2 linked regions of the Homo sapiens genome follow. The protein of the gene in region 1 purifies or fractionates together with the protein of each later gene. This does not show direct contact. Each region holds a gene or a part of one and is shown on either strand. Other genes may lie near its edges.

Region 1 (3,646 bases):
CTCCACATAATTGAACTTTTGGAAACGACCCTGTTGGAAAGTTGAAACCATCTAATTATCATGAGCTCCTCTTTAACTGGGCCCCACTGGGTGCCCCACCAGGTGCTTTGTTAGCCTATTTTATCTGCCAGCAACCCTGTAAAGCAGGTTAGTGTGCCCTTTTGCAGATGAGAACACTGAGGCTCTGGGAGGTTGTCAGGCTTACTCACAGAGCCTCAGTCCAGCCACAGAGCTGGGCTGGACCACATCTGTCAGGCTCCGAGCAGCCCGCCCCGCCTACCGCGCGCAGGTCGTTAGGCAGGTCCTCGTCCAGGTCGCCCTCGACAATCTTCTCCAGGGTGCTGATAGAGATCTCCAGGAGCTTCTCGTGGTGGTGATTCTCCAGGTCCCGGCACTGAGCCATCGTGCAGCCCCGAGTTAAGCAAAGGCCCGGGAGGAGCAGGCCCGGCGCGTCCCTGATGCTCTCAGACGGCGGGAGACAGACTTTAAGGGCCCAAGGCGAGCTCGGAAATTCTGGCTGGCAGCACCGTCCACTCACAAGCTCCGAACCCTGGGCCTTCCTCGACTCCCTGCCCCTGCCCCACACCTCGGACGGACCCTCGGCCCCTGCCATCACACTCTTCTCTCCCTCCTGCATGGAGGCTCCTGGCCTCTGGGTTAACTGCTTCTCACCCTGTGCATTTGGCACCACTTGTTGCCTCTACAACTTGTCTCCCTGAGGGACTGTGAGCCCCAGGAGGGCAGGACCACAGGGCTGCTGCTAGCTGGAGCACAGCAGTTTGCCCCATGTGGAGTGCCCTGAGTTCGGGTGGAAGAAGGGTTGGCCATGCTCCGATGTTGGCTCCTCACCCTAACATTTCACCTGATGTACTCCTTATAGTGTCTTCCACGTGGGGGTTGCCTCAACCCCAGAGTGTGCTTGCCTGCAACACAGGGGGCGTCATTTCCTAGTGAACATCACTCATATGAGAACAATCATGCTGGGAGCCTACTGCAAACAGTTTGGATGTTGTCCCTCTGGGCATCCAAACCACAGCTCTAACCAGGCCATCATTGTTCTGAGGGTCGGGAAACCTCCTCAGACCCTGTGGAACATTCTTTTGTCCAGAGGCCGGGACAAGCCCAGGGGCTCTGTAGCACCTCCCCATGGGGAAGGTCATCACAGAAAGGATATAGGCTTTGGACATTTTCGATAAACAGTCCTACCATGTCAACAATGTTCCTTTCAAACATGTTTATAGTCTCCTGGAAATGTTAAAGAACACAGTTAACATGCATATTTAGATGTCCAGCACAGAGCAAAAGGTACTCCTCAAAATTTAGCAACCAGCTCCTCTAATCACAGACCTTCAGCATAAAGACCACCCATCTTGACCCTCCTGAGCAGATGGTTGTGAACTGACCCCTCTGCTCTCTCTAAAGTTGTTGTTCTCCAACCATATTAACTCCCTCACCATCTGAATGTTTAATGCTGTCACCGGAACTTTGCCAGGAACACTTGTCCTGGTCTTACTCCCCTTACCTGCCTGCCCAACACACACACACACAGCCAACCCCCTCTCCTTTGGGTTTCCCAGTGACATCTGTGCATCACCTCCAGGGAAACAGTGGAGTGAGCTGTTAAGAGCTAGACTGCCTGGGTCAGTATTCCCAGCTCCAGCACTCTGTGTAACTCTGGGAAAGGCATTTCACCTCCTTGGGCCTTATCTTCCTCATCTGGGAAATAGGTTACCTGCATAATCCCTGCGTTGTGGCGTTGTGGTGAGGTTAAATGAGTCACTTCACACAAAATGCTTTGCAAGGTGCCTGACAGAGAGGAGGCCCTCAGTAGGAGCGGGCTGGCACTCCAGATCTCTTTCAGTTAGTTGCTGTTTTGTGGTGCTTAGCAAGGCACCTAAGGCCCAAATGGGAGTTAGTGTTGATTGAAGGAACAATGGAAGATGTGATCTCCAGGCCTGCCACTCTCGGAGTGCCCCACTCCCATCTGCTATAGACTCCAGGGGCTGCAAGGTGGGCAGGGGTGGAATCTATAGGAATGTGAGTACTGTCTGCAGAGTGAGCACCTCACATAATTTTCAAACACATGTATGTGCTGTTCTCGTGAATAAAAATAGGGTCATTGAAAAGCATGATTGCGCTTGTGGCTTTCTGGCCACCAGTAATACAAGTAGGATGGCACATGGGTTCTGGGAAATGTTTGGATGTTGAAAGGCAATCTCCGTGCCTGAAAAGGCTGGGAGCTGCTGCCTCACTCGCCCCTGGCACTGTGCGCTGCTTCTGCAGTGCCTGTGCTCTCCAGCAGGGAGGGAGCACCTGCCCTGTGATGTGATGGGGAAATCTATCCCATGTCTGAGGTGTCACTTGACGTGTGAGGAATTGATTAGGTGCTATCACTTGGCCCAGCCACAGCAGCATCCGATGAGGTTCAATTCATCACACCACTTCAGACTCCCAGCCTCCGCTGCCTTGTAACACATACTCTGGCTGCTAATGAATTTCAGACAGCGGCGCTTTTCATTTTCACTACTTAGTGCTGAGTTGCAGCCTCCTCACGTCACCTGAGAAGCGGCAACTGCAGGCTGCAATGCGGAGGGGTCTTTGTTTGGTCCCCAAGTGGGGGTGCGCTTTGCCTTTAGAGTACCCGGATAGCTCCAGGGGTCTAATCAAAAACCTCTCCCCACTGACTTCCAGGATAGGGGGACCATTTCAGAAGAATGAGCTCACCTCTCATTTTCCACAAGAATCACTTCCAATGTAAATGATTAAAATGTAATAAAAGCAAACAGGACTGATGAGCAAGAAAGCTACAGCCTGCCACGCTGAGTCGTGCTGGACGTTTCCAGCAGAGGCGTGCCCATGAAGGCTACAGTTCACCTATGGATGTGCAGCTGCATCGCCAGATTCTGGCACTTGTGCCCAGGGCCCAGCCTTACCTCCAGCTGCTCCACCAGCTGCATCTCCAGCGTCATGAGCGCATCGAACAACTCACTGATGTCAGCACTGCATTCTAGGATCATCTTCTCAATGTTGGGCAGTTCCAACTCCTCTCGAATGGCACTTAAACTCTAGAAACAATAGACTGCACTTTAGGAATCAACAACTAAGTGTAATTAGATAATGGCAGGTGGCAATTTGGTTTTGTGGGTAAGAATTTGGACTCGAGTCAGCCTGCCCAAGTGCAAGTCTCAGCTTTGCCATTTGCTGGCTCTGAAAGCGTGTAGAAGCTACCTACCCTCTCCATGCCTCAGTTTCCTGGTCTGTAAAGTGCGATTGATAGCCCCTACCCTTGACACAAGTGAGAGAACACATGTGAGGCTCTTTGAGCACTAGCAAGTGCTCACTCCCTGTAAGCTCAGGTTTTTATTAGAGGCTGGTAGGCAGGGTAGAAGGAGCCATGGCTTTCATGGGGTTCAGAGCATTTCACACCAAAATATGCCGCTTTGGCATAGTGATTATTTTGAGTTAAAGATACTTAAAGGCCGGGAGCAGTGGCTTATGCCTGTAATCCCAGCACTTTGGGAGGCCGAGGTGGGTGGATCATGAGGTCAGGAGATTGAGACCATCCTGGCTATCACAGTGAAACCCCATCTATACTAAAAATACAAAAAAAAAAAAAAATTAGCCAGGCATGGTGGCGGGTGCCTGT
Region 2 (3,746 bases), on another chromosome or scaffold:
CCCAACGGCCGTACACCAGGAAGAGGGGCTCTTCTGGCAGCCCCCATCCTCAGCCAGCCCTGCCATTTCCAGTCCTGCCAGCATCCCAGCCAGACAGGTGGCCCTTCTCTTAGAGCTCAAACCTAGGCCTTGACTTGTCAATCAAAGGGGTGGGTGGGGCAGCTTCCCTCAAGCAACTTCACTCTGGGATCTTGGGCAAGACGTTTTGCTTCTCTGAGGCTTCAGCTTATTCTGTGTAAACTAAATGGTAGCCACTATTTGATTATTAGCTGGGGAGGAGAGATCAAGCCTGACCCCTGTAGCGGCTGGAGTTTTACAGCAGGGCCCACCCAGCACCCAGTAGGTCCTCACAGATACTTGCTGGGTGACTGAATGGGTGTGCCCACCCATCAAAGCCTGAGTGCTGGAGGTGGCCACCCCTTTCCGCGTATTATCAGAGACAACCACCTCTTACTGAACTGCTGCGTTTCCAGGCACCAGTATACCATGGCATCGGCTCCCACCATCCCATGTGGGGTCAGTCCTATTACAGTCCCAACAGATGGAGGGACTGAGGCTCACAGAGAAGCCACTCACCCAAAGTCACATGGAGAGAAAGACACGCACACGTACTCCACATCCCCAGGAGACACACTCTGCATCTATGAAGTGGTATGGGTGTGCTGTCCTCCCTCGGGGCAGCCCCACACTATCCTAAGGCGGGGTTGGGGTGGGCGGGGGGATGGACCCTCCCCACCCATCCAGTTAGCGCCATGCACCTTGCCCACCATCGCTGGAGACAGACCTAAGGCGAGCCCCTTCCTACCCATCTGGAGGCCTCGGTCTTTCCATGTGTTAAATGGGCTGGGGCCGGGGGACGCTCTGCAGCACCCCCTTCCCTGGGCTGGGACGCGGCGGGGAGGGCAGGGGTGACGCTCGGAGAACAGAGAGGCCGAACCCAGAGAGCGGGCCGGGACCTGATACCGATTTCCCACCCGTCCCCTGCCATGGGCGCCGGACGCCTGCCGGAGAGGGCTCCCCTCCTTAAAGGGCCAGTGGCCTCCAAGCCCGACGCCTGCGACCGGCGGTGGGTGATAGTGTTTCCCCTCCCTGTCCAGCCGAGGGAAAAGTTAACTTTCCAGGCTTGGCTGTGTTCAGGGAAGGAACTGGTCTCGCCTGCCTGCCCTCCATCCCTCACACCATCCCTTGTCCCGGACCCTGGAGGCGGAGGTCCAGCCCCCAACTCGGAGGCCCCGGGCCCACCCTCCCCTTCCGCCCCCGGCCCCTCGGCAGGCTCCGCCCCTCTCTGACGTCGCCGAGGCCCGCGCCGATTGGTCGACTGCACTGTCGCTCCGGACACTTCCTCCTGGGCCGCCGCCGCCGCCGCCGACTTAAACTTTGGAGGGGGAAAAAGAGCTACTGGCGCCTGGCGACCCTCCCTGCCCCCCACCCAACCCCGCTCCGGCAACGCCCCCTTCCTCACGGCTCCCGACCGAACTTTTCTCCAACTTCTGCGACTCGTGAGATTCCCTTCTACCCACTCCGGCCCTCGGGACCCCTCTGCCCATCCCCTGGCCGGTCGGGTCCCTGCGAACCCCTTTATCTCTGGAATCCACTCGGTCCCCGACTCAGAGACTCCTGCCCTCCACCCCCAAGGTGAATTCCCCCGGGCCGCCTTCTGAGTGGGATCCTCTTCTTGGAGCACTGGATCCTGGGATTCCCTCTGCCCCCTTCTCAATCCCTCCTCTAGGGAAGGGGCCTTTGAATCGCGGGCTCTCCTGATCCCTGTGACCCCGACCTACTAGATTTCCTCTCAGGCTTCTTGGAATCTCAATCGCTGGGACCTCCAACCCACTACTTTTCTCCTTTCTGATCTTCTGGGAGCCCTGGATTCCGGGCCTCTGACCCACTATAGTGCCTTTCTCTCCTTCCCAGGACCCCGCCATCCTCAGGTCCCCTCCGCCTGCCAGATCTTTTCTCGGATCCCCGCTCTCCCACCACCTGCTCACGAGATCCCGCGGATCTAGAACCCAGGGTCCCCCGGGGCCCCCCGGCCGGGTCCCGGGTGGGCTCCAGGCGGCCGGTCCCCGGCCTCCCCCCATGGCCACCGCCCCCTCTTATCCCGCCGGGCTCCCTGGCTCTCCCGGGCCGGGGTCTCCTCCGCCCCCCGGCGGCCTAGAGCTGCAGTCGCCGCCACCGCTACTGCCCCAGATCCCGGCCCCGGGTTCCGGGGTCTCCTTTCACATCCAGATCGGGCTGACCCGCGAGTTCGTGCTGTTGCCCGCCGCCTCCGAGCTGGCTCATGTGAAGCAGCTGGCCTGTTCCATCGTGGACCAGAAGGTGAGGGCGCAGGCTCCCTGGATCCAGCTCGGGGAGAGGTTGAAGGAGGGGGCGCTGGCAGAGGGGTCTGGGGCCTGGTGTGCGGAAGAGGGAGGAAGGAGACCTGAGCTTTGGGTGATGGAGGGATAGGGGGCATTGCCCCCCTCCATTGCCCCTCTCCCCACCATCCCTTTGAGAGAGGACTGGGCAGGGGTGGGGTGCCCCAGAGGCCTCCCCAAATTTCATGTCCCTGCATGTCGTTGTTTTCTGCAGCAAACAGGGAGGAAGGGAGGGGCCAGCCAGGTGTAGAGAGGGGAGGAAGGGGCAGCAGATGTCGGCGGACCTCCACGTCCAGGCCCATCCCGGGCCTCCCATTTGGTGGAAACAGGAGAAATTGAACCCGGGCTGGCCATGGTGATCCGGTGACATGTGTGGGTGCAGGTGCTTGAGTTAGCTGCCAGGGGCAAGTGAGGTCTCGGAGCCCAATTCTGCCCTCCCCTAAGCCTGAGATATGTGTGGAGGGGCAGGCACTCCTACAGACCCTGGGGACTCTATTCCCTTTCCTAGTCACAGTGCTGTTAGCCTACTCTTAATTTTGGACACCAGGGTCCCCAGGGTGGGCAGCTGGGTGTTATGGCAAGAGGAAACCAGGTGGAACTCCACGTCTAAACCGTGAAATGTTAAAAGAATAGTGGGCTTCTGTGTTGGAGTACTGGACTGTAGAAATGTTAGAATATTAGAATCATAACTTGTTGGAATATGCATCCTAGGCAATTAAATTGCCCCCATGTTCGTGTTCAAATATTAGAATTCTAGGTTTGTGAAATAGTAAAACATTAAAATGCTGGAATATTAGATTCCTAGATTGTTGAATCCTAGAAAGTTAAAATGTTAGAATTTTAGAATGCTGGATGGATGAGGTCCTTGAATGCTAAAGAATTCAAAGAGCACAGTCCTAGCTTGTCAGACTCCTAGAATATTAAAATATTAGATTACCGCTTATTTAGGTTATTGAAATCCTAAAATGTATAGTGATACCAGGTAGGAATCTAGAATGTATAATTCTATAATGTGAGCATGTTGGAGTCCCAAAATATCCAAATTCCAGAATCTTTTCAGACTCCTGGAAATGAATCCTTTGGGCATCAGAGAAACGTGGGGAACTGGGCCAGCTCCCCCATTCTACAGACAAGGAAACTGAAGCTTAGAGAAAAACTTCCCAAGGGGTCAGGGCCAAGGCAGTCCTGGTCTTCTGTGGACTCTCTCTTAGCAGTGAGAACTGATAGGGTTTTGCCCACCAAATGCCTCAATCCCGCAGGCCCAGCTCACCACCCCAACTCAGCCCACTTCATGGGAAGCTGGTGGCAGTGGGGGTACGGGGGCAGATTGTCCCTTGGGTGAACTTCTTTGTCCAGTGCTCAAGTCCCCAGCCTGCCCCGCTCAGGCTT

Evidence for each region. Proteins that work in one complex are often made in the same cells at the same time.
Region 2: the proteins of DRC3 (region 1) and PRKD2 purify together in Homo sapiens (affinity purification with mass spectrometry; one large-scale study listed by BioGRID and IntAct). This does not show direct contact.

Annotation. Positions count from the first base shown.
Region 1 is NC_000017.11:18,003,782-18,007,427, reverse strand, and holds part of DRC3 (dynein regulatory complex subunit 3), read right to left. Parts: intron 3,066-3,646; coding exon 2,934-3,065; exon of another isoform or gene 2,924-2,933; intron 1,246-2,923; coding exon 1,175-1,245; intron 405-1,174; coding exon 281-404; intron 31-280; coding exon of another isoform or gene 1-30. UniProt on the Homo sapiens protein: Component of the nexin-dynein regulatory complex (N-DRC) a key regulator of ciliary/flagellar motility which maintains the alignment and integrity of the distal axoneme and regulates microtubule sliding in motile axonemes.
Region 2 is NC_000019.10:46,714,704-46,718,449, reverse strand, and holds the start of PRKD2 (serine/threonine-protein kinase D2), read left to right. Parts: upstream 1-1,639; 5' UTR 1,640-2,079; coding exon 2,080-2,319; intron 2,320-2,399; exon of another isoform or gene 2,400-3,746. Other genes in the region: uncharacterized protein LOC107987269, read left to right, coding at 1-97, 474-651, 1,273-1,639.